2 separate regions of the Homo sapiens genome follow, and region 1 is linked to region 2. The links come from fine-mapping of genetic effects on gene expression. A gene starts in region 2. The other region holds a variant in brackets. All regions are shown on one strand. Distances are between the middles of the regions.

Region 1 (2,904 bases), 110 kb after region 2:
ATGTGGCTTCAAGGATAGATTGGTTTAAGCCAAGCCTCCTTTACTTTTCCAAATAAGAACAGACACACACTGATAGGAAATGAAACAGGAAATGGCCCCCCTGGCTAATGTGTGGGTAGGGTGAGATGATTCCTTTAACTTGCTCAGCATGAGTGCCTTCTCAGGATGTGACAGGAGTTCATGTCGGGATTTAAGAACATGGACTTCTTGGATCTGTTGGTTGTATGTTCTTGGGAAAGTTACTTATGCCTCAATTTCACCTGCAAATTGGGGTTAATAATGTTTAAGGTCACAAGGTTGTTCCAAGGATAACACGAGAGGGTGCATGTAAAGAGGTGGGTGTAGCACCTGCCGTGTAAGAACTGCTCAGCCTACATTAGCTGTAATGACGATTGGTGAAGACACCCGCTTGTTAACTGTTGTGTTCTGTGAGCCCCCCAGAAGCACCTTGTCCGTAATTATCACACAGAAGGCCTTTTCCTCCACTTTCACCGTACACAGAAATAATATGTAAGGCCCAGACTTAAAATGTAGGCTGTCATTTTTTTCCTACTCGAAAATAATAGAGAGAAACATTTCTTTTTTTCTTTTTATTTCTAGTGCACCTATATATGTGTAAGAATGGTTTATTACTCTCGATCTTCTAAGTTAATTTTGGGGGAAAATAGTAACTCCTTCAAGACTCTAGAGTTTCCTTTAGCCAATTAGACATTGTGATGACTCATCTGAGAGAGTATGAGTAGGCTGCTTATGAAATTTATTCTGCCACCCAAAGATGATAAACTTAAAGAAGTCCCTCACCCAGACACAGCATAATAAAACAGCTGAAAACCAAACACGAAGAAATCTTAAAGTCAGCCAGAGGAATCAGCACGTGACGCACAGGGAGCAAAAATCCAAAGGAGCGTGGATTCACCTTCAGGAGGAGCCCTGGAGTCCTCAAAGTGGCACAGCAGGCCCAGAGCATGGAGGAAAAGAGCTACGCACCTTGAACCTTATATCCAGCAAAAGTGTCTTTCAGCAATGAATGTGAAATACAGACAGTCTCAGATGAAGACAAACTAAGAATTTATTTCCAATTTACCTGTGATAAAAGAAGCGCCACAGAAACTTCAAGCAGAGAGAAACAGTAAGGATAATCTGGAACTTCAGGAATGAAGGGAAAGTGACAGAAATGATAAATGTCTGGGTGAATAAAATAGGCCTTTTTCTCGGTGTGTATGAGGAATGAAGGCAGCATCCATAACACTGGTCTTTTCAGCTAACGCAGAGGTCCACACAGAGGGGAGGGCACGGGGCCAGC[G/A]GAGGGCATGGAGGCCGCTGTGGAAGTGGCTTCTGTAGTCCACATGAAACAGCAAAATGTTATCCTCAGTAGACTGTGAAAAGTTAATTGTGTAAATTGTAATTCGTACGTGAACCACACACCCACACAGCTGTGCAAAGAGATATAAACCAGACCCCAATAGACCCTTAACATGGAATATTAAAACTATTCTAAGAATCCAAATGGAGATATAAAAGGGGAAATTGATTAAAAAAATGTAAGACACAATCAGAAAACAAATCATGAAATGACATACTTAAATCCAAACACCCCAGTAACTAAATTAAATATAAGTAGCTTAAGCATATCAATCAAAAACCAGATGATCAGATTGGATATTTTAAAAAGACCAAACTGTGCTGTCTCCAGGAAGCCTACTTTAAATATAATGATGTAGGGGGATGAAAAGATGCACCACATAAACATTAATGATAATAAAAAAGCTTCGGTGGCTGCAGAGACGAGATAGACATCAGAGCCAGGAAGATTGTGGTTGATGAGGAAGGGCACTGCATGATGGTGAGAGGTCAGGTCCACAAGCAGACGTTGCCGTCCTGAGTATGCACGTGACAGAAGAACTTCAAAATATACGAAACATAAACTGGTGGGACCGAGAGGAGAAATGATGGATTAATAACTGTAGTTGGTAGTTGGAGTCTTCAACACTCCTTTATCAGTCATGGTTAGAATAGAACAGAAAATCTTCTAGAAGGAGGATAAAGAACTGAACAGCATCACCAACCACCTGGACTCACTTGACATGTGCAGAACACGCTGCCGAGCAATAGCAGCACACACGTTCTCAGGGGCACGTGAAATGTTCACTAGGGTAAATCATGCCATGGGTCATTGAAAGCTCTAACAATTTTATAAGATCTGAAATCATGCAAAGCATGCTTTTGACCACAATAAAGCTAAGCTAGAAATTAATAACAAAAAGATATTGGGGAAACTTCCAGCTACTTGAAGGCTAAATGACACACTTAGATAATGCATAGGTCAATTTTACATTTCAAAGAAATTAGAAAAAAATTTGAACTGTATGAAAATTGGAAACAGAAAAACAAGAAAGAAAATCAATGAATTCAAAACAGTTCTTAAAAATATCAACAAACTGGTAAATGACAGAGAGAAAAGAGAGAAAACAAATGATCAATATTAAGACTGAAAGAGATGATAGCATTATAGACACAACCGACATAAAAATGACAGTAATGGACCACTATGAACAACTCTACGCACCTAAATTTGAGAAGTTAAATGAAACGGCCAAGTTCCTTAAAAGCCACACACTATTAAAACACACTTAACAAGAAATAGATAAACTAAATAGTTCTGTATCAAAGAAATTGATTTTTTAGTTAAAAATCTTCCAAAAATAAAACTCCAGGTCCAGATGATCTCACTGGAAAATTCTACTAAACATTCAAAGAAGAAATATCAGAAACTGTATACAGTCTTTCAGAAAATAGAAGAGGAAGGAGCACTAACTTATTTTATGAAACCAGTATTATCTTGATGCCCAAACCAGGGAAAGAAGAGAAACTATGGACCAGCAGCCCTCATCATCATCAATTCTC
Region 2 (2,904 bases):
CTACAGATCAGATGAATTTCTATGCATCACATCCTTCCTAGGGCTCAGGGGTCAAGAATGCACTCAGGGGGCACTGGCTCAGTGCCCTCCAGGTGCCGGGCCAGACGTCAAATGCTGGAAGTGCAAGGATGTGCATTCAGAGTCTTACAATCTAGTTACTTCCATTGACGACAGCCTTTGAGGAACCTTCAAAATGAGTCTCACAGCACGGTGGACGTGCGCAACGGGAAAAGCTCCCAAGCAGGCGCAGCCCGGCTAGGCTGCTACAGGACGGCTTCCCCTGCCAACGCGCACACGGCACACCGCGCACCGCACGAAGGCTGGCTGGCTCTGCAGCATTCCAGTTCCCACCGCCTTCTAATTTCAATCCAATTTCAAGCTTCCAGGCTTTTAAAACATCATTCCTCCCTTCCAACTTTCTGTCACAAACTGCTAGCCTAACTTTAGAACCAAAACGTTTTGATGCGTGACACTACTGCTCATCTCCATTTTCTCCACAAGCACCAATTTCTTTTCACCTCCTCAAGCAGTAAAAAGTTTTAACAGACTTCCGCTGAAAACATCCGGACGCTTGCGTATTAACTTAGTTATTACAGTAAGTTCACTGAGTGTGTTGATTTTCCATATCGTTCGCCACTCGGTTTTTGCAGTAAGCGTTCAAACACTTCGGCAAACTATGCGCGGAATGAACGCTGAGCGAACGCGCGCTTCTGCAGGCCCCTCCGAGGCCAACTCTCTCGGCCCCGGGCGCGTTCCGTCCCACGGCTGGCCTAGGAGGAGGCGTTTTGGGGACAAGCTTGTCAAGCAGGGCCGGCTGCCAACTTCGGGGAAGCCGCGCCGCGTCCCCCGCCCGCCCGCACTTGTTGCTCGCTAGAGGCCGCGGGCTCACCTCGGGGCCCCGCCTCGCCGACCACCCCCGGTCTCAGGCGCGGCGCCCGGCCTGGGCCCACGCCCCCGAGACGCTGGGCGGCCGCCGGTGGGACTGGGCCCACGCCCCGGCACCCAGGCCCGGGACGGGGTCAGGGTCGGGTCGCACCGGCCGCTTCCTCACCTTCGGGGACTGCGCTCCGGGGGTGGCTGGGTCGCTGTCGCACGGCCGCGGGGACAGCGCAGCCCCGGGCCCGGCCGCCGCCGCCATCAGCCCGAGCGCCCCGCGCCGCCGCCGCCGCCGTCGCCTCCGCCTTGTCCCGGCCGCCGCCGCCGCTGCCGCCGCCGCCGCCGCCGCCGCCGCGCGGGCCCCCCGCCGCCCCGGCCCCGCCCCCTCCGCCCGCCCGCCCGGGGGCCGGCCCCTGCCGCCGCGCGCCCCGCGGCCCGCCAGCGCCGCCGCCACCGCCATGGCCGTCGCCAGCGCGCCGCCCGCGCGGGAGGGCGCCAAAGGCTGGGAGGGCGCGGGGCTGCGGGCCGGAATGGAGGAGGCCCAGCGGCGGCGGCGCTTCTCACGTCAGCCCAACCCGCCCGGCCGCGGCCACCGCCTCAGCACCGTTGCCCCCCACAGCTCCGCCGCTGGCCTCAGCGCCGCCGCGACTCCCTTCAGCCCCGCCACTCGCTCGCCTCAGCCCCGCCGCTCGCTCGCCTCAGCCCCGCGGCCGCCTCAGCCCCGCCGCTCGCCTCAGCCCCGCCGCTCGCCTCAGCCCCGCCGCTCCCCTCAGCCCCGCGGCCGCCTCAGCCCCGCCGCCGCCTGGCTCCCCACGGCCCGGCGTTGTACTCGGCCGCGGCTCCCCCCAGCCCCCGGCGCGCCCCACCTCCCGCCCGCCCTCCGGCCCGCCCCGGCCCGGCACGTCGCCACTTGGCGCGCTCGCAGCCGCCCCCTCCCCGCGGCCCCCGGCCCGGCCCCTCCGCGCGTCACCCTCGTTCCCTCCCTCTCTCCGCGCCCCCGCCGCGCCCCTCCCCGCCCCTCCCGGGGGTCCCCGCCCCGCCCCCTCTCTGCCGGGGGTCGCCCTGCCCGGAGCAGTCGCGCGGAGACTGCGCGGCCTCCGCCTCTACGCGCTCGCGGTCGCCGCTCCTCTCCCGCCTTTGTTCTCGGGTCGCCCCTCTCGCTGGTGGCGCTCCGAGAGAGCAGCGGAGCCACCTGCCCAGGCCACGCTTCCCCGAGCATCCGCAGCTGCACCCGGGGGCTGTCGGCGCCCGCCCCGGAGCGTGCGGGAGGCACAGCGGGAAGAAGTCGCTGAGATTCGGCCCTCGTGGCTTTGCGTGCCCGCGTGGTTGATGCCTCCGCCGAGAACGCGGTCGGCCGGGAGCCGGGGAGGAGCGTGGACGCCGGCCTGGCAGGTACCCCCGCGAGAACGTGGGAGCCGGTGTATTTCAGCTGCATTTATTACTGATCTCGGGCTGCACCAGGGCACTTGTAGGACCGCACTAAAAACAGCGGAAAGTGAGGAGCCAAGCCTGGGTCCGGGGCGGCCCGCCGTACAGCTGGCCTCACGGATTCCACTGCCTGCGCCTGCAGATGACTTGTTCTGGAGAGTAGAGAATGTTCTCGGATTTAAAGTACAATCCGGTTTCCTTTCCATTCATTATAGTTGCCTACACTCAACAAACAAAAGTTGGGAAAGATAAAGGGATTATTCTAGCGCGTCACATTGACAAACACCGACGTTAACACGCTCAGTCCAGCCTGACTCACTTGCCTCAGGTCAGAGAGGTCACCACTGACGACGCCGGGCCCTCAAGCCGATCCTAATCCAGCTTGGTTCTCTCAGCCTCAGCCAGACCATCCGTTCTTGCCTCTGTCCCACCACGTGCAGGTGTAAGCTTCCGCCGCACTTCTTGTCTGAATCTGCCAAGAAGAAACTGCATCTTTCAGCTAAATTCTTTTCACTGATCAGGGTAGAGTTTAGCGGTTTTTTTTTTAAGAAAAAAAACAAAAACAAAAAAAAACTCTTAAGCTATTTGGTACTCCTCTCC

The links. PIP is the estimated chance that this variant, and not a neighbour inherited with it, causes the effect.
Region 1: its variant is fine-mapped to the expression of PHF10 in whole blood (INTERVAL, PIP 0.96).

Annotation. Positions count from the first base shown.
Region 1 is chr6:169,832,728-169,835,631 of GRCh38, forward strand. No RefSeq gene overlaps it. Among named protein-coding and RNA genes, the nearest start is that of LINC00242, 35 kb to the left of the region's middle. The variant G/A (reference allele first, on the strand shown) is at 1,304.
Region 2 is chr6:169,722,794-169,725,697 of GRCh38, forward strand. It overlaps PHF10 (PHD finger protein 10), which reads right to left and starts at 1,707. Exons shown (of 12, transcript NM_018288.4): 1 at 1,052-1,707. The coding sequence starts at 1,138. It also overlaps a transcript of DYNLT2 not described here. RefSeq lists silencers at 809-1,188, 1,289-1,528, 1,599-1,898 and an enhancer at 1,830-2,372.